Linked DNA regions of Homo sapiens. The protein of the gene in region 2 purifies or fractionates together with the protein of the main gene of each other region. This does not show direct contact. Each region holds a gene or a part of one and is shown on either strand. Other genes may lie near its edges.

The links.
Region 1: the proteins of LRRTM2 (region 2) and TMEM38B purify together in Homo sapiens (affinity purification with mass spectrometry; 3 studies listed by BioGRID and IntAct, with this or other methods). This does not show direct contact.

What each region holds. Positions count from the first base shown.
Region 1 is NC_000009.12:105,765,318-105,775,520, reverse strand, and holds part of TMEM38B (trimeric intracellular cation channel type B), read right to left. Parts: intron 1,657-10,203; coding exon 1,441-1,656; 3' UTR 1-1,440. UniProt on the Homo sapiens protein: Intracellular monovalent cation channel required for maintenance of rapid intracellular calcium release. Acts as a potassium counter-ion channel that functions in synchronization with calcium release from intracellular stores.
Region 2 is NC_000005.10:138,872,336-138,883,505, forward strand, and holds the start of LRRTM2 (leucine-rich repeat transmembrane neuronal protein 2 precursor), read right to left. Parts: upstream 3,001-11,170; 5' UTR 2,577-3,000; coding exon 2,573-2,576; intron 2,222-2,572; coding exon 675-2,221; 3' UTR 1-674. UniProt on the Homo sapiens protein: Involved in the development and maintenance of excitatory synapses in the vertebrate nervous system. Regulates surface expression of AMPA receptors and instructs the development of functional glutamate release sites.

The DNA.
Region 1 (10,203 bases), on a different chromosome or scaffold from region 2:
AAAAATTTAAAATAACAACAACAAAAAAAAAACTTCTAACTTGAATGTGATGTGACTTGAGTACTTCTAAACCATCGAAAATACCTGATACGGGGAGTAGGTTCATGGTTTTGGTAAAAGAAACTATGTCACAGAGTTTTAATATTATAACTGGACTTCTAAATCATAAAGTAAGAAAATTAACATCATTTAGTATCTTTTCTTGTTTGTTTTTTATTTTGCTAAGAAGGAACCAGATTTTATATCATCATTCTTCATCTAAATGGACTGCCATATGAAGTTCTGGTTTCTCTGTTTCTTCTTGGTTAGCTGGTTACTACCAAATGCCTAAGGACAATTCTCAGAGCATTTCCACATGAAGGTGATTAGTTTTCATTTAATAAAATTAATAACACATTACATGTAGATGAAAATATAACAAAACCATACGAAAGCTTGTCAGAGATATTCAACTAGAAAACTAAAACAGTAGCCACTAGAAAAAAGACATAGTGGAAAAATTTTTGAACGGATATGCTTTTTGTTGAATAATTACAGTAATTACTACCAATATATTCAGACCAACAAAGATTAGAAAGAACATGCAAAATGCTGAGAAAATTTCTCCTACAATTAAAACAAATGTGTTTTTATGAGAGAGAAAAAAATAAGTCAAGCTCCTAAAATGAAAATTACAAAACATAGGATTAACAATTTATTAAAAATTACACCCTTGATTTTTTTGAGGCCAAAAAAAGTAGTTTTTTTAAAACAAGGGCATGAAAAAGACTTCAGATTAAGACTCATACTCTGTTCTAAATGAAAAGTAGTAAAACTACTTCTAGTAGAAAATACCTGCTATGGAAAAAAAATTTCAGATATTTTCCATTTGATGTAGGTATTAATAAAAAATATGATGTTTATATCTAAAATATAAACTAGCAATTTATTTTCATTTATAATATAAAGTGTTTTAGGAAAAGTTTACTCTTCTCAGTGTTCAAAATAAAATAGGAATTGTTCTCCATACCTAGCAATTTTAATGATAATGTCAAGTAAAAATTTAATTCTGCTGAACTAAAGCTCAAATAGATTCAAATTTTAAAAATATGAAAAATCTACATTTTTAAAAGCTTAAAATTTTTGTTACTTTGCAATGACAGATCTGCTTTTTCTAACATTTAAAAAATTTTGTCTTCTTTTATTAATATAAAACTATTCAAATAATCACAACAGAATCTCTTATACCGGTAAAGCATAATCACATGATACACTCGTAACACTCTACAAATACAATCCAGAAAGGGGAAGTCTCCCTCAAACAAAGAATTTCTTTCTTTCTGTCACCTCCATTCCATATATATAGTCTTCATTTCACATCACATACATAGAAAAATTAGCACAATATAACAGGTAGATAAGAAAAAAAATTTTTGGCCTTGTAGAGCTCATCACGTAAATTTATTCATTCTTCTTAGTATGTTTCTTTTTAACATTATCTGAGGCAACATCTACCGGCTTTGAGGCCAATGACCCAACGCCATTGGAAGGTGACTTTGCTTCACTTTTCTTCTCACATGATGAAAACGGCTGCTGCCAGCCAAATAGCATCCAACTCAATGTATCCTCAAAAGGAGCAAATGTCATAGTAGAAGTCTGTGTAGTCATCATGGTTATCTGGGGGAAAAAAGTTTAATTTTGAATTTAAATACAAATGATTTCTGTTTCTCAAGAGAGAGAAACAAAAGGAAAAAAAATCAAAATGCATTATTAATGTAATCTGCAGGGGAAGCAATCTAAGCTAGATTCTGGTAAAATCTCTGTTCTCCATGAGATTCTACTTAATGGAAAATAACACAACTCATTAAAAATAATACAAGGTACCATATTTTGGGGTGCCAAATGAGTAGAATAACCACTTTCACAAAAATGCATTTAGTATTCAAAGGAAGTAAGATAAAATATCAACATCACTATGCATTTAACATGTGTCAGAACGAAGATAAGTGCTTTACATTGTCGTTCTCTTTAACTTTAACCCAACAACTATTCTATTATTACCCTCATCATTGAGATGTGGAACCAAGGCTCTGAGAGGTTAAATAACTTGCCCAAAATCACAAAGCTAATAAGTGGTAAAGAAGTTTGCAATATCCAGATTCTGAGTTCGATTACTAAATACACTGACTATCATCATCTAAAGTCACAGACTTTTAGTGACTTGCAGAATGCTACCCTCAACAGATTGTAGAATGTCCCCCAATTTTTTCCACATATATTTTTATATAAAGGAACCAAGACCTCAAGGGGTAGAGAGTGCTCCTATTCCTTTATGTGGCAAAATGCACAGTGTTCACAGATGTTTAGATATACTCAAGAAATTAGGCTAATGCCAAAATAAATCTGGGAGGAGAACTTTCAAGTCTAGAACAGCTCCAAAGAATCCAGGAATTTCCCCAAGAGTCAGTTCCTCCAGAACACAGATAATGACTTAAACTAGAAATTCTGGGGATCAAATTTTCAAAGAAGACCCCTACATAACCTACCTGCTTGGGGAAAATGGTATCAAGAATAAATTCTTACTAGTTGCAATACAGTGTGGGGAGGTGGAAGAAAAGTATATATTCATCACAAAAGGAATAGATAAGTTAAATGCATGCTATGCAATATTTAGAATAGAAAAGAAAAAGTGAAAAATTCTTAGAACATACTGTTAGGTGAAAATGAGACACAAAACAAGAGCCATAGTGTACTATCATTTATATAAATTAAAAACACATCCACACACAACATTGTGAGAGTACTAAACGTCACTGAAATGTGTATTTTAAAACAGCTAATTTTATGTGAATTTGAACTCAATTTTTAAAAAAAAAATTTTTTTAAATACATGCCCATGGACTTCAGGCCAGTCATGATTAAATAGCTTATATCAGGACTCAGTCTCTCACCAAAATCAACAAAAGACAGAAGTACATAAAGTAACTGCTAAAAGACACTGGGAAACAACTGAAATAGGCAGAACCTGATGGGGCTACTATTCAAGAGAAAAAAAGCTGAATAAAGTGAGTTCCACATTTACCCTTGCTTTTTCTTGTGAAGATATGTACCTAAATTCACAGCACAGGGGAATAGAAAGCAGAAGTCCAGGGGGGATAAGGAGCCATAGGTTGGAATGTGAGAAGGCCAAAGCTGTAAGGACCTGAGGTCAATACAGCCCAAAGAGGAGGATGTCGCATGGAAGTGAGCCCTAAAATCCTCGTGCAATTTGCCCTGGGGGAATTTACCAATCCCTAAACTCTGCATACATAAGAAGGATGAGAATCCAAAAGCCTAGCAGACAGCAATAGCTGAGAGGCCAAAGAGCTGAGCAGATACTTTAGCAGCCAGCTGCCTGGTACTGGGAAGATAAGTTGGAATTCAAGGTCAGACAAGGTGAAACTGCCCAGGGATGTACTTCAGGCTTAAAGTAAGACCCCAAAAGGGTTACACTGTAGAAGGGCAAACTGAAGTACAATACAGCACTAAGTCTAAAACTAACAATATGATTAAAATATTCTGCTTGTGCATTAACTGTCTTCCAGAAGATGTTGAATGTAATCCCTGCCCTCAAGGAGCTTACAGACTAGCCAGAGACAGGCAAGTAAATCAGTAATTACCAAACAGTAAAGAAGAGAAAGGGCAGTAATAGAGATTTCCCAGGAACATTTAAATAATAGATATAGATCTGGAAGTCATTTATCATACAAGCGAAAGGTAAATGCATAAATGAGTGTACACACCTGGAGAGAATGTAAAACGAGGAGTCCAAATATAACATTAACCTCCAAGTTTATGCCATTATTGGATAAGATCTAAGGACTTTTTTATATTAAATTATTCCTTAGAATAAATAGTTACAATGAGATACACTAGCATAATTACCTTGGTCATAGCTTGACTTAAGGAACTGCAAATAAAAGATAATAGAATTCCAATCAAAAACAATGGTCTACTGTCAGGAAAACAGCAACGTCTTTTTTACAAAATCCAAAAGAGAAGAGTGTCAGGGTTTAAAATATTTTCTGAGAACATGAACTATAATAAGTATTTTTCAAACTCAAGTGTTTTAATAGAATCTCCACTCCCAAAAGACTCATCACTCAGTTGAGAAGTATTGCTGGCATCAGAAATTACAGCTGAGATAGACACATGAAGTTCAAGGACAAAATTTTGTGAATTCAGCCTCTTATCAGACCTTGATTTAACAAGGTGACAAATGTACTTGTGACAAATAGAATAAATCCTTATTCTTTTACAAATAAAATATAAAACTGTCTCCTTATTTAGCAAACTATTAAAAGAAAAAGTATATTACCTAAATTAAATAGTATTTGGCTTCATAGTCTCTTACTTAAAAAGGAGATGAAACAAAAGAAAATAGAAGCCCTAAAAATATTTTGGCATTTTTAACATATCCCAAAATATAAATTAATTCAGGTAAAGAAATTTGTTTAAAGCTCTGCCACATTCTTTATATCTCAAGTTACACCATTTCAAAATGTCCAGTAAAATGTGACACACAATATGGCACTTATACCTACTTTGATATTCTCTATAGTGCCTAGCACTGAGAATACACTGAATGAATAAATATAACATCTACTTCATAGCAATAATTCAAAGCATACTGAAATATATCTATAAAAGAAAAATTTGCACAATTAATCTCTCTCTTCATCCAGAACATACTTCTTCCTGTCTCCACCTGCCCAAATTCAAATAATCCTTTTCAGTGTAACTCGTGTCTATTCCAATAGGCCCTTATCAGTATCTTCCAATGAAAGTCACCTGGCCCTAAAATGAATCCCTAACGGCACATGGCATATTCAAGTAGGTTTTCTGATCACTCTATGCTTTCTCCATAGATTATGTTATTCCCTCAGACTTCGCTAATTATTAACATGAATGATTCAAATAAATTAAAATCATAGGGTTTACATTTTTACAAATGTAAAAAAAAACCTAGGTGAATGAACTGTTCATTTCTGGTATATATCTTTAAGTGTGGAATAATATTCAATGCATCAATGAATAAAATGTATACATTATACCTTATTCAATGTATATCTTTAAGTGTGGAATAATTAAATAAACCTGTGAAAGAGCATTTTGATCATTTATTAGTCAGTCAACAAATATATATTAAAAATCAACTATATACACTAGACTCAATGCTAAGGATGCAGTGATGAATACTGCAAACTTAGTACCTCTCCTCATAAAGTTTAAAAGTCAAGTTAGCATATCTCCTGCTCCTTTTTAGACAATAATGTCTTAAGAATAGGATTTGGGTCTTATTCAATGTTTATATAATCATTCATATCCCCAAAAGCACCTAAGAACAGTGTCCCTCATTCATGTGTTCAATAATACATCTTATTCAATACATCAATGAATAAAATGTATACATTACACCTTATTCAATGTATATATGATTATTTGGATCCCCAAAAGGGCCTAAGAACAGTGTCCCTCATTCATGTATTAAACAATACATTACCTGAAGACACTTCTCATCAGTATTCAGCACATCTACGCTCTTTAAAACTATCTCCTCCTCCTTAAAACTCTCATCAACCACCCCTTTTCCATTTCCCATTCTAGATTTCCCTTCTCTAAATATTAGAGAACTTTATGGCTCTGTCCTCACTCCTGTCTCATTCCATGCTTTTCTTCCTATAACTGCCTCCCTAAATTAGCTTATAAATTGCAATAAACAATAAACACAATTGCAATAAAAATATCAACATGGTTTTTTACAGAGCTAGACAAACTATTAAAGTTCATATCAATATACAAGAATAGCTAAAAATATATTGAAAAAACACAAACACAGAAGAAATCCAGAAAACACTGAAAAAGAACATTTGCAGGAGTGCCTGATTCTCCACAGCCTCATCAACAGAATGTGTAGCCAGACTTGTAAATTTTTCGTTTGCGGGAAGGTTGCTTGAGTCCAAGTTTGAGACCAGCCTGGGCAACATAGTGAAACCAAAATTGTACAAAAAATACAAAAATTAGCCAGGCATGGTGGCACACACCTGTAGTCCCAACTACTCAGGAGGCTGAGGTGGGAAGATCACTTGAGCCTGGGAAGTCAAGGCTGCAGTGAGCCGTGATCATGCCACTGCACTCCAGCCTGAGTGACAGAGCGAGACCCTGTCTCAAAACTAAAATAAAATACAAATTTAAAATTTTGTGCCAGTTTTGATGAATGAGAAATGGTATCTCAGTGTTATTTTAATTAATGTTTCTCAAGTATGAGTTCCACATTTTTTAATATGTTTGAGGAACATTTCCTGATCTTTTCTGTGTGAATTGTCTGTTGATAACTTTCCTTTAACTTTTCCATCAGGTTTTGGTCCTTTATCCCTTAATTTTTAAGAGGTTGTTATATATCAGGCATACCAGCCCTCTGATATATGTTGTAAGTATTTTATCACAGCTATTTGATAGCTATATTTTGACTTTGTCCACAGTGGCTTTTGCCATGCAACTTTAAAAAACAATTTATGGAGTCAAATTTATCAATATTTTCTTTATAGTAAAGGAAGAACCAAGTAAACCCCAAAGTAAACAGAAGGAAGGATATAAAAAAGACCTGAAATTAATGAAATCTAAAACAGAAAAACCAATGAAACCAAAAGCTGGGTCTTTGAAACAAATCCATGAAACTGACAAACCTCTAGGTAGAGTGATTTTAAAAGACAGAAAAAGAAAACACAGATCACCAATATCAGGAATGAAAGTGGAGACATTACCACAAATTCTACAGACATTAAAGGGATAACAAAAAACTATTATCAACAATTTCATGCCAACAATAAAAAACTTAAGTGAAATGGCAAATTCCGTAATAAATACAACTTAGTAAAACAGACACAAGTAAAATAGAAAATCTGCATAGCCCTATATCTATGTAAGAAATTGTTATCAAAAACCTTCCTTTAAAGAAAATTCTAGGCCCAAATGACTTCATTAGTGAATCTATCAAACATTTACCAATAAATAATATCAAACCTACATAAACTCAGAGATTAGAGAAATTATTTTCCATTTATTTAATGAGCCCAATTTTATGTTAATACAAAAAGGAGAAAAAAATTACAGAGAAAACTACAAACCAATATCCATTAGCACACTGGAAAAAAATCCTTGAAAATATTTTAAAAAATGGATTCAGTAATATGCAAAAAGGATACCGCATCATGACTAAATGGGGTTTATCACAGGAATGAAAGATTTATGTAACATTTTAATAATCAATCAATGTAATCCACTATATTAACAGAATATAAGAGAAAACCCCTATGATTATTTTAAATGATACAGAAGAAAGCATTTGACAAAATCCCACACCCATTCATGATAAACACTTTCAGCAAACTAGAAATAAAAGAGAACTTCCTTAACCTCATAAAGGATATCTATAAGATGCTTAATAGCTAATATCTTATTTAAGTTAAAAGGCTGAATGTTTTCCCACTAAGGTCACAAACAAAACAAAGATGTCTACTCTCACCATTTCTCTTCAACATTGTACAGGACATTCTAGCCAATATAATAAGGCAAGGAAAAAAACAGCATCCGGGTTGAAAAGGAAAAAGTAAAACTATCTTTATCATAGACAAAACCATGTATATAGACAATGCTAAAGAATCTACACAAAAGCTACCAGAACCAACAGGCAATTTAGCAAGGTCACAGGATACAAGAACAATGTGTAAGATTATTCTTACAAGCAATGTACATAGAAGCAATGTAAAATTCCAAATTGAAATTTGAAAAACTACTATTTCTAAAGGCATCCAAAAATATGAACTACTTCAGGATAAATTTAAATTTAACAAGATACATATAAAACAATGAAGACCACAAAATAGTACTCCAAAAATTTAAAGGCCTAAATAACTGGAGAAACATACCATGTTCAGAGATCAACAGACTAAATCTTTTTAAGATCTGATTTCTTCCCAAATTAATCTATAGATGCAATCTCAAAAACAATTCCAGAAGGCGTTTTTTCCATAGGAAGTGACAACTTTATCATAAAACTTATTTAGAAATATAAAAGATGTAGACTATCCTAAGAAATATTGAGAAAATAAAGTTGGAGAAACTGTACTACTTGATTTTAAGACTTACTATAAAGTTATGGTAATTAAGACAGTTTAGTATTGGCTAGAAATAGACATATAAATCAATAGAACAGAATATAGTCTAGAAATAGACCCACATAGGTCAAGCCAACTGATTTTCAACAAAGGTGGCAAGATCATTCAATGAGGGAAAGAACTGTCTTTTCAACAAACAGTGTTGTAACAACTTCCTACTCATATGGAGGAAAAAAAAAAAACCTGACCCTTACCTTGTAGGACTCATAAAACTTAATTTGAAATGGTTCACAGACTCTAAAAGTAAAAAGGATGAGTTCATGTCCTTTGTAGGGACATAGATGAAGCTGGAAACCATCATTCTGAGCAAACGATCGCAAGGACAGAAAACTAAACACCGCATGTTCTCACTCATAGGTGGGAATTGAACAATGAGAACAATTGGACACAGGGTGGGGAACACCACACACCGGGGCCTGTCGTGGGGTGGGGGGAGGGGGGAGGGATAGCACTAAGAGATATACCTAATGTAAATGACTAGTTAATGGGTGCAGCACACCAACATGGCACATGTATACATATGTAACAAACCTGTATATTGTGCACATGTATCCCAGAACTTAAAGTATAATAATAAAAAAAAACAGAAAAAAAAGCAAAAATTATAAAACTTTTAGAAGAAACAGGTGAAAACTCTTCAAAACCTTGAGGAATAAAATAGTTTCTTAATAGGACACAAAAAGAAGGGCCATGAAAGGAAAATCTAGTAAAGTAAACTTCATCAAAATTTAAAACTTCAGCTCTTCTAAAGACAACACTAAACAAAGAAAAAGGAAGAGCATAAACTGGGAGAAAATTATTTGCAATACATATATCTCACCAAGGATTGACATCCTGAATATACAGAGAACTGTTACAACTCAATAATAATACAATTTTTAATGGACAAAATATTTAAACAGACACTATTCAAAAGATCACATGTGAGTGGCCAGTAAACACACGAAAAGACGCTCAAATCTCTAGCCATCACAGAAATGCAAAAGAAAACTATAATGCGATATCACTTCATACCTACAAAACGCTAAAATTAAAATGACTGATAATACCAAATAATTAACAAGGATCTAGGACAATCAGAACTCTCATACATTGCTAGTGGGAATGTAAAATGATACAACCATTTTGAAAAATAGTGTGGCAGTTTCTTAAAAAGTTAAACATATGCTTTTCAGATGACCTAGCAATTCTCCTCCTAGTTATTAAGTGAAACGAAAATACATGTCTGGCTGGGCACAGTGGCTCACGCCTGTAATTCCAGCACTGGGAGGCCGAGGCAGGCGGATCATGAGGTCAGGAGATTGAGACAATTCTGGCTAATATGGTGAAACCCCGTCTCTACTAAAAATATGAAAAATTAGCCAGGCGTGGTGGCATACACCTATATTCCCATCTACTCGAGAAGCTGAGGCAGGAGAATCACTTGAACCCATGCGGCGGAGGTTGCAGTGAGCCAAGATCACACCACTGCACTCCAGCCTGGGTGACAGAGCAAGACTCCGTCTCAAAAAAAATAAAAAAGAAAAAAAAGAAAATATGTGTCTGTGTACAGACATATATGTACACATATTCATAGCAGCTTTATTTATAACAACCTTATTCAAATAATCAAAAGCTGGAAATACACCAAAACCCATCAACAGATAACTGGAAAAACAAATTGTGGTACCTAATACTACTCAGGAATATGTAATTACATGGATAAATCTCAAAAACAAAATGAGTACATACTATATGACTCCATATGAAACTACAGAAAACACTAATCTGTAGTGATATAAAGTGGATAAATGGTATACTGGGGCTATGGGTAGTGGCTGGGATTTACTAGAGTAAGGTACAAGGAAATGCTCCAAAGTGATAGAAATGTTTCATACATTGACTGTGGTAGTAGTTACACAGGTATACAAATTTGTCAAAACTCATCAAAATGTACTCCTAGACTGAATGTACTTTATTATCCATGAATATAGTTTAATATGCATAAATTATACTTCTAAAAAGTTGA
Region 2 (11,170 bases):
AGTCACTTGGATTCATTGTGTAAATATATTAAAGAGTCACTCAGCTTATTAGAATTACATTAAAGGGTTCTGAATTCATGATATGGACTTTGATAATATCTACTAACCCAGGCAGAAACTCTGGAAGGAGAATGTTTAATATTTACCAGTCTTCAGCATACATGAAATTCTACTTCCCACCCTGGCAAGAAATTGAAGATTTGAGTAAATACCAAATTATCATACAAGAGAACTTTACTAAGTCTCCTTTTAAGCAGCAAGATAGTTGTGGTACATGGGATGGAGAGCAGTGATCAAACAGGTATTGATCTATATCTGTTTCTGCCCAATAGCTTCTTTCTAAATTGTTTTCAGTAGAAAAAAATAGTATATGGAGACCTTAGTGTAAAGGTTTACACACGATTGTATATAATTACATACATTTCTTATTTTGAAGTAAGCATTTTAGACTTTCCAACAGGAGTGCAAATTAATGTGAGCATTGATTCATTTAACACTTAAAATATGGTTTCATTTAAAAAATTAAAAATACTTCAACACTTCAAAAACTAAGTCTCCACTTAGTTTGGAAAATTAGGCTTAATGTCACCATTGGTAAAAATTAGATATGTATTTAGCCTCTACTATGTAAAATAGGTTACTTATCTGATGTGATTTTTGATGATGGGTAGATATTATACTTCACATTCTTTGTATGGCAGCTGCTGACACTTGCACTGTCCATAACCATTAATGATGATGAAGGGTCCTTCATGGGTGGGTTCATATTCATTATACGGTCCTTGGTCTGACATGTTTGACATATGGAGTCGTGTTTGGGATCGGAGCTGCCTGTGGTTCTGAACCATTGAGCACTGCCTAATTCTTCTTAAAGTGGGAGGGCAGCACTTCCTGGAGATGAACACTATAAAAATAATAAAAAAGAAAGAAAACAATAAAGCCATTGTTCCCGTAATTACCCGCTGAGTGAAGATGGCATTGTCTGGTTCAGGAAAGTGTTCCTCGGTAGTAACTGCTATGCCTGCAGTAGTTGGGATTTCTTTGTCTCCCACATGGTAACTTGATGAGCTTATTCTTTTTGTATATTCAGTGGTTGGATCTCTATAAGTTGTAGCCATGACAGTGACAGTGGTTGACAAATTCCAGCAGAGCTGAAATCCATGGACTGCATCTAGAATATCCTCTCCTTGGGTGTGGTCAGGACTGTGGCATAGGATGGAGTGTTCCCACCGACCTTGGAAACTGCCCAGCCAGGAGGCCAGAGCACATATTCGGGCGCTGCATTCCCACAGATTGCCAGAGAGACCAACGGTTGTGAGGGATCTCAGGGAGTTTAAGATCTTGGAATCAAGGCTGTTTAACTTGTTGTTATCCATGAGGAGTATTTTAAGATTGGGCATCGTTTCAAACACTGTCAAGTCGATGGCTTTGATTTCATTTCCAGTCAGGTCTAGCTTTTCTAAAGTGCCCCAGGTCCACTCCATCCCACATGTCAAGTTGCTGATTTTGTTCCATTGTAAGAAGAGCGTGTGCAGACTGCTTAGCCGTAGGAAATGAGCAAAATTAATCTTCGTCAGCTGGTTGTGCTCTAGGTGAAGCTCTCTCAGTTTAATTAATCCTGCAAATCCATTGCGAGCCAAACTTCGCAAACGATTTGTGCTCAAATCCAGAAACTCCAGACTACGACAGTCCCAGAACAGGCGTACTGGGATAGTCCGCAGGGAGTTGGAACGTAAATGCAAGGTCTGCAGCTTCCGAAGGCCATAGAAGAGCTCTGGGTGCAGAGATGACAGCTGATTAAAAGACAGGTCCAAATTTTGCAGGTTAATCAGTTGGGTAAAAGTTGTGTTTGGCAAGTAAAATATTTTGTTGGAACTTAAGATTAATTCCTTAAGTTTATATAGTCCTTGAAAAGCATCTTCTTTTACTGTTGAAATTTGATTGTGATCTAAGTGGAGCCAAGTAAGTTGACTGAAGCTGGCAAATTGATCTCTTTCGAGCTCTGTGATGTGATTGTGCCTCAGGGACAGGCCCAGAGAGCCCTTGTCTGTGGCGTTTGGCACTGAGTGGAAGCCCTGAGAGTCGCAGTAGAAGAGCAGCTTCTCGCAGCGGCATTTGGGTGGACACGCCATACCCAGGGCAGGCAGCATTTTTAAAACCATACTCATTGCATATATTGCTGCCAGCATAGGGGCCCCTAATGGCCACTTGAAATGTAAGCCTGCAGAATATAATTTAAGGAAAACAAGAAGATAGGATATTTTTCAGCAGAACATATGGGCTATTTAAAAAAAACAACCACCACCAACATTATAGCAAAAGATTTCACTGCATATAACTTATTTTTCATTTACTGCAGAAAAATTAACCTTATTGGTATGACTGGACCAAAACTTAAGCCATTTAAAAAGAAGATAAAACATGTCTCTGTCATCATCGATATATGCTTTTACCTAAACCTCAAAATCCAAAATATGATGGTGATTTCCCTCATAAAATGTGAATTCGGTAGCTTATTTTAAAAGCGTGATTCCTTGTTGAATGTACAAGACATATAAATGCACAGACTTACCCATTCTTCTGAGCACATTGGAGGCTGCATTCAGTCGCGGTTGTTAGACTCAACGCAGTGAGTCTGTAAAAGGCTCTAACATGTAGGAGCCTTTGACCAGTTTCCTGTTTTCTGTGTCCCAGGCTTTCCAAGTAAAATTGAATCCACCAGGACGAGTTGTTTTTTCCTTAGGATATCCCTCTGGAAAGCATTGGTTTCATTTTCTGTGATTGCTCTGATCCCTAAATCAGTTTTGAATATAAGTTATTAAATTTCTCCACCTCTAACTGCTCAGCTGGTTAATCAAAGCTTCAGTCTCCTTTCCGCAGCCGTTAGTTCTCTTGGTCTTAACTTGTTGATGGCAGATGGGTGGCTTGTTGCAGAGAAGAGCTCCTGGAGCAGCATGAGTGCATTTACTGAAAAGCTTTTCCGAGAAACGGCACAAGAATGGATTTGCTTATGTGCTGCGACCACACAGAACTGTATATAGGCTGACGTCACCGGATGACGTGTCTTTTGTTTGGGTTTTCCAGAAGCTTTACTGTTATAAAGCACCATGCTTTGTAACAGCATCGGGGTCGTTGCAGGACCCCCTGATTACAATAAAGCGAGAAAGAAGAACTCCTGACTTAAAAACATGATATTCCTTCAGTGTAGGAAGCAGCAGTGAGGTTGTAATAAAGGCTGCATTCAAGAAGACCCATCTGAACAGTGAGTTGGGTTAGCAGAGTGATGATTTTTAATGCTTGTGAGAGCCAGTGTTAGACTGCCGATTCTGCATAGAGAGATCATCTAAATGGGCAGAAGCCTGCACAATTTATGAAGTGCTGATTTAACACCAGCCTATGCAAGGTAGTGTCGCTGCACTGGTAGTTTGGAAAGCTATTCAGTTGCCTTGTTGTCATGCTTGGTTAAAATCAAAGTATGACTATGATTTGCTTTAGATGTGTTGATAAACTAGCTAAGTGGGCTTGGCTTGTTTGTCATCAAGAGCTTAACATTATAAACGAAGAATAAAGGGGGAGGGGAAGCTTGCAAAACAAAGCATGTGGTTATTTTTTTCTTTGAGAATTTCAGGGGAACTCTAAAAAGATTTCTCTTTCTCCTATTTTATAACAATGTTTTGTCGCCATACTGATTGAAAAAATAATGCTGAGTTGATCTTTAAATGTCCTCCTGGGAGGACAAGGCAGGTTGATACAGTCATTTTAATGCACATGCCCTAACAGCAAAGCAGAGATGATTTAGGACAAGTGATACCGTGTAGCTGGATTCTGACATGGCCCCTTGTATTTTACCTCAGAATCTCACCTACTCCATAACTAAAAGCCTCCGCTGGTACTGAGGTTGGTGGTTGTGACACTGAAATAATAGAGCATTTGCACCCTAGTTCCCAGCCACCAAGTGGCTGACTTAACTGAGCCTACTGCTGTTGTTAGAACCTGTCTTGTGAATACAAAAGGTCACTCATGCTTTGGACTGGGATTTTTGTTTTGACTTGATTTTGCTTGCCCTAACTCCAGTTTCTCCCTGTTGAATGGTGTCTTCACTTTTCAGACCTCAGTTGTGGATGTATAGCTCCATGTTTAGTGTTATATAAATGCAAAAGATGTTTCTAGATGTTATATTTTCAGGCCTGACAAAGGTAAGCCCTTTTCTACATCTTGCCTTATTGATTTGACCCAACATACCTATTTCTCCCATATCATTGGCACTTACCCTTTGTGGGTCTTGTCTCAGACCTAAGGACAGACATCTTTAAAACTACTGATGGTGTCTGTGAAACAAGAACATCGTTGGCCTTTTTGGTTCTGAGGGATTCATCCCACTGGGCAGATCTAAGAAGTAATTGTCTTGGGTAAAATTTTTCTGTTGTAGTGTTGTGCTGGAGTGAGAGCTGTGAGACTCCAAGGTCCCTTCCTTAGGGCTCTGTGTAAAGGTGCTATGAAAACTGCAGCAGTGCAGGTGTGTGGTTTGAGTCCTCCTAGAAGTGATCCCAAGGTAGAATTAGAAGTACAAGAGGCAAAAATGCCTACGAAGTACAAAGGGAGACAGAAGGCAGCAGGAATGCTCTGAGAGTCTTCGTACCACAGGGCAGGTCTGACACCTGTGAAGGGACAGAGGAAGCAAAGAAGATGAGATTGGCATTGTGGTTCTTAGACACATTTTGTAGGCTGAATGGAAATTCCCAAGCCAAAGTTGCCAGTGAACAGACTCTTGAGTCCTTAGTAATGAGCCTGCACTAGTACGTCCTCTTTGTTCCTTCTTGCTGGTTAAAGAAGGGAAGGAAACAAGTCCTGGTTTAGACCCGGGGAATGCTACTCCCCCTCTGACCTTAATCCTTCCTATAGTCTCTCTCAATAGGCTAGAACTTCTTAACCTGGTTCCATAAACTGTCTTGTGAAATTTTTTTGCTTGTTCATTTTTCTGTGGATAAGGTTGAGTCCGATTCCTACAGGGTCTCTCACCCTAGGTTTCAGAGCTGCTGTTCTACAGGAACTTGCCCCCAAAAGTTCTAAGGACAGTAGTCTCATAGGAGTGGTCTCTTAAATTTCTTTTTTTTTTTTTTTTTGAGACGGAGTCTCGCTCTGTCGCCCAGGCCGGACTGCGGACTGCAGTGGCGCAATCTCGGCTCACTGCAAGCTCCGCTTCCCGGGTTCACGCCATTCTCCTGCCTCAGCCTCCTGAGTAGCTGGGACTACAGGCGCCCGCCACCACGCCCGGCTAATTTTTTGTATTTTTAGTAGAGACGGGGTTTCACCTTGTTAGCCAGGATGGTCTCGATCACCTGACCTCATGATCCACCCGCCTCGGCCTCCCAAAGTGCTGGGATTACAGGCGTGAGCCACCGCGCCCGGCCAAATTTCTTAAATGAAAATAAGCCCTTGGGATGTTGTAAATGCCCTTATTGAAGTCAGCTACCCTCTGATGAAAAAAACCCTTTGCCACGCAGGAGAAGCTGGATTAAACTCTTCTCTCAAGTAACTACGTTAGTTCCTTGGGGAGAAAAGCATTTTAGTCAGTTGGATTAGAGCCACCATGATTAGGAATGAGTTGTGTGTTAACATGCAGAAGGAAAAGCATCTCCGTGCCCTTAAACTCTTGGTTTTTAGTCTGCTTGGCCTACCTCTTAAATACTAATAAATGGAGACTACTTAAATTATATTATCTCAGTACTATTATAACAGATTTGTGGGCAAGGAAAATTGCCCAGAGAAGCATCAGTGCAATCAAGAGTAATTATTTTTTGAAGGCCTCTGAGGAAGTGGGCACTAATGCTTGCAGTATCATGGTGCCCAGAGAGCACAGCCCCTTCCAGGTCACCAGCCATCTTTCTCACCTGCCCACTCTTTGGGTTCAAGAGGTTCAGGCTGTGGAACCAAAGAAGACATGGAGTTTGCCTTAAAATTGGTAGAGTGCAGAGTTCCCATTGATGGAATTGTGTATCATTTTTTGGTCTTTATCTTTCTTTAGCTAAAAGGGCTACATATCTATTTTTCTAAACTTTCTCTTGGTTTTGCTGTAGAGCAGCTTTTTTCCGCAAACATATGACTTTGACTTAAAGTGGCAATACTACTTCTGGAAGGTACTGTCCATATGATCTGTTTCAATTTTCATTGCTTTAGATGTTCATGATAAGGCAAAGGAGAAGTAAAATCTAACCTGTCTCCTCTCTGTAAATGGTTTTAAGCAAATTAACTGAGTCAAGTGGCAGGGCTTAGATGGCTGTAGTTGTCTGCATTCCTCCACATGAGAGTTTGCTTTTCATATGTATTGCTGATTAGGGAGAGTTATTCCCCTACTTGGAGAAGCAAATGTACAGATATATTCATGAAATTTCCTGTTCTTCTGTGGGAGGGAGGGTAGAGAGGGAGCTTTATATTTGCTTTATGCTAAAAAGGCAAATGTTTCTTTCATCATACCCAGCTCCAAAAATTGTGTATGCCCTGGCACCAAAGTGTTGCCCAGAGGTGTTTTGGAGGAGCATGTTAAAATAAACCTTGTTGCTGGCAGTCTCAATCCCTGCTTTTAAAAAAATGATAGCTGGCCAGGCACAGTGGTAGCCTGTAATCCCAGCACTTTAGGAGGCTGAAGTGGGTGGAGCACGAGGTCAGGAGTTCAAGACCAGCCTGGCCAAGGTGGTGAAATCCCGTCTCTACCGAACATACAAAAATCAGCTGGGCACGGTGACAGGAGCCTGTAATCCTAGCTACTCAGGAAGCGGAGGCAGGAGAATCGCTTGAACCAGGTGGCAGCCTGGGTGACAGAGTGAGACTCCGTCTTTAAAAAAAAAAAAAAAAAAAAAAAAAGCCATTTTTAGGGTGGAGGTCCTAGATGTTGTGTGTCTTATGTCCTCTGCCAAGAACCTTTTAAGGTGTTAACTGGCAACCACATACTTAGGCTTATGTCGTAGCCAGACTTGTATTAGAGTAAGTGGGTTTTACTAGCTTGTCTTTTTTTGAAAGAGAAGGGAATCTTTCAATAGTAGAGTGTCTACATTAGACTACCAGAATCTCCATTTCTGCCTGGATCCTTGTCTCCATCCCTTCCTTCTGTTGATTTTATTTTGTTGTTGTGTTTTTTTTGTTTTTTTTTAAAAAGACAGTGTCTTCACTCTTTCACCCAGGCTGGAGTGCAGAGGCACGATCATAGCTCACTGTAACCTTGAACTCCTGGTTCAAGTGATCCTCCAGAGTAGCTAGGACTACAAGCACATGCCACCATACCCAGCTAATTAAAAAAATTTTTTTCGTGGAGACAGGGTCTCACTATGTTGCCTAGGCTGGTCTCGAACTCTTGGCTTCAAGAGATCCTCTCACCTTGGCCTCCCAAAGTTTCTGGGATTACAGGTGTCAACCACCATGCCAGCTGATTTTGATTTTTAAAGTCCTTTTGTTATCTTGTTAGTAAACACAACTGAGAAAGCAGTAGAAGGGGATTCTGATTACACTAACAATGGTAAGCAGTGTTTCTTTGGATGCACCTTACACATTTTGGGACATATCCTTCTAGTTTTGGATACATGTGCACTCCGGCAGTTGTTGCTGTTGGGGAAGTTTCAGGGTCAGAATCATGTGACAACCTGCTTCCCTTGTATTTTGTGCCCAGGGCTAGATAGTTCAGCAAGAAATCTTGGAGCAATGCGTCTAAGTTGGGCATTAGGTTATGGAAGGTCTTCCATAGAAGTTTGGACAGATGAACGTTTATACTATTAAGATGTTTTATTTCTCCTATTATAGACATCAAAACAAAAATAACAGACTCTATCTTGAAGTTTTTGTGTTTGTTCGTTTGTTTTTGAGACAAGGTCTCACTGTGTTGCCCAGGTTGGAGTGCAGTGGCGTAACCTCCCAGGCTCCATTGATCTCCCTCCTTAGCCTCCCAGATAGCTGGGACTACAGGTGCGTACCACCATGCCTGGCTAATTTTTTGTGGAGACGGGGTTTCATCATGTTGCGCTAGGCTGGTCTTGAACTCCTGGGCTCAAGCTGTCCTCCCACCTCAGCCTCCCTAATCGTTGGGATTACAGGCATAAGCCACCATGCCCAGACCATCTTGAAGTATTGATTAAAGCACAGGCTGAAATGTTTATGGCAACCTCCCCGCCGCCCCTTTTAAAACTCTTCTTCTGCTAGTGGCTTCATTGTGTTCATGTTTTCCCTTTCCCCTCTGTGTAGCATGCTTCATCTTTTATTCTGAAATACATAGCCAAGTTTGGGGTTGTCCTTCCTTTCTCCTCTCTACATTTCTGAGTAGCTTTTGATGTAGATGTTATTTCCTCTTACCTACATAGATGGCCCAAGGGGCTATACAAAGAAAGCTGTTTGCACAGGATAGAATTAAGAGGTAAGATACCCGTTCATACTTACTTGAAGAATCGTTCAATTTTAGTGGACTCTCTGACCCAGTTGTCTAAATTTAAGGGGTTAGTTTGCATGTTTGTTGGCTATATGCTAGCACTTAAGGTTGATGAAGCTTGGAAACCATCATCTGAGAACCCTCTTAATAGGTTCTGGGCTGGAGGGGCAGTGACAAGTGATATGGCAAGGAAAAAAAAAAACACATTGAATATGTGATGTTGTTAATGCAAAGAAAATTCATAAAAATTTGGCCCAAAGAGAACAAGATCATTTCTTACTCTGTACGGTTTATAGCAGCATGTCAGCATTCCGTCTGCAGTTGAGATGTTGATTCCTCCTTGTATTGCACATTGCTGAAAGGGGCTTCCTGAGGCTGGAGAGAGCAGTGAGGTAAGACTGTCCTCCTTGAGAGCTCGTCTTGATGCTTGTTGCGTTTGTCTGTGTATGTCTGCAGTGTCTGTTCTGCTCTTTGTAATTTAAGAAGAGGGCATTCTTTGAAAAGAATTTGGGAATACAGGACTATATAATCATTGTATTCTAAGATTGATCTACTGTTGAGCTTTGCTTAAAGCACTCCCAGCAACTCTTGTTACATGTTCAGCTTAGGCAGAGCCCACCAGCCATTTGTGGGCCAGGTAGAACAACCAAGGTCAAATTGCTTCTCCTGTTATTCATTAAATATATGTTGTATGACACTGTGTTGCCCAGCCCACAGCAAGCTTTTTAGCCCTACTCATGAAGACATGTATTGACTCCCTAAAAGCTGCTAGTTTCCCTTAGTTTTCAAACATTTTTCTTGATAATTCTCTTTAAAGTTCTCTTTCCTCTCAGAAACCTTCTTGGTTGTGAGCAACAGCTTGGTTATCACTTCCTTTCTCAAGATCTTCATCTCTTGCTTTATTGAAGGTCCCTACTGTATGGATGACAGCCCCAGTTCTCTTTTTTATTGTCTTGGGTAGAAGAAGCTTCAATGCTGATTCTTATTTGGTCTTGTAAAATGCCATAATTCATTGTTTGTTGTTGTTGTTGAATTTTCTAATGGCTGAGGAGGTATTTTATCTAACTAGATCTTCCTGTTAAACTAATCAGACCTCCTGTTTGTTACCTTTTTAAACAGTCCTTAAATGTTAAGGGTTAAAACACTGTATTTCACCCTCCTCTACCCACCTCAGGCTTACTCTAGATTAAAATGAGGATAGAAAGCAGAGGTTTATTTGAAGTCTTATATTCTAACTAGTGACAAGGAAGCAGAGACTGATGACTTGCCACACAGATTACACATGAAGTCCTATATCTTTTAAATGTGTCTCTAATTGGTTATTGGTTTCTCATTTCATTCATGTCCAATGGGAGACAGACAAGTCAACAGGTAGTTATCCTAAGGTATGATTTGAGAAGGTCTTTGAGAGGAAACATGAGATGGTGTGGTAGCATTCTGTGGGGACACTGAACTTGAACTTAGGGCTGAGGTTGGCTAGCAGAAGCTTCCACAAGGAAGTAGTTTCTCATCTGAACGATGGGTAGGAGTTGGAAGGAGGGGAGAAGAGTATTTTATGTAGGTGAGAGAGAGCACGGCATGTCTGAAGAACAAAAATGTATGTGGGTGGGTCAGCATGGAAGATGGCAGAGTGACCATAGGTTCATTAAAGCAGTAGGAATGACCAGGTTCCATAGGGAGAATGTGTAGAAGAAGGAGAAAAGAAAGCCTTTGTTTAGCGGAAGAGGTTATGTGGATCTTTCAATGTAGGGCACTTTTTATCTAAGAAGTATGGTGGGATGATATTTGTTTCGTGCAGTCAGGTTGAGTAGCTTTTTTGTAGGTTCACCTGGAAACCTTTGCCTTTTCATTTAGGGACTAAAATGTGCCTTGAGATGCCACCAGCAATGCCAGGAACATATTTCATCCCTTCCAAACTGGCAAGGGTTGGAGTAAAAAGTTTCCTCACTACTTCCAGTAATAGTTATACGCTACAGGGTTGCTTTTCCTAAGGTTATGTTTGAGTAACGTAATTTTTGTTCAGTTAATGCTAGAAATAAAAAATCATAACTTTAATCTCAAAAGAAGTAGAATCTTGTTTTTGTTTGTTTGTTTGTTTTTTGAGACGGAGTCTCGCTTTGTCACCCAGGCTGGAGTGCAATGGCACAATCTCGGTTCACTGCAACCTCTGCCTCCCGGGTTCAAGGGATTCTCCTGTCTCAGCCTCCCGAGTAGCTGGGATTACAGGCACATGCCACCACGCCTGGCTAATTTTTGTAATTTTGTAATTTTAGTAGAGACAGGATTTCACCATATTGGTCAGGCTGAAACCAAAGGTTTCAGCTTTGAGGCTAAAGGTCTCAAACTCCTGATCTCAGGCTGTCCACCCGCCTCAGCCTCCCAAAGTGCTAGGATTACAGGCATGAGCCACCGCGCCTGGCAGAATCTTGTTTTAAAATGAGCAAGCTTTATACTTTCCTCAAGCTCAGTGTTAAGGTTGTGAGTGTGTCTATGTGTACTCATCTCTATTACATTTTAAATGATTGGTACCCTAAACTTGCTATTTGGACTGTATTTTTCTAAAATGATACTGTGATTTTAAAATGGTCTGTCTAGTATAACTTAAAGGGCTTAGTAAATAACTGCTCCTAAACTGCTCCCCTTCTGATTAATGAGGCATAAACCTCTATTTCCTGCAATAACAAGAAAGACAAATTGATTTTTTGGGTAGTTTGACAAAGACAGAATTAACAGATTCATGGTGTGGGTTGCATTGCATCT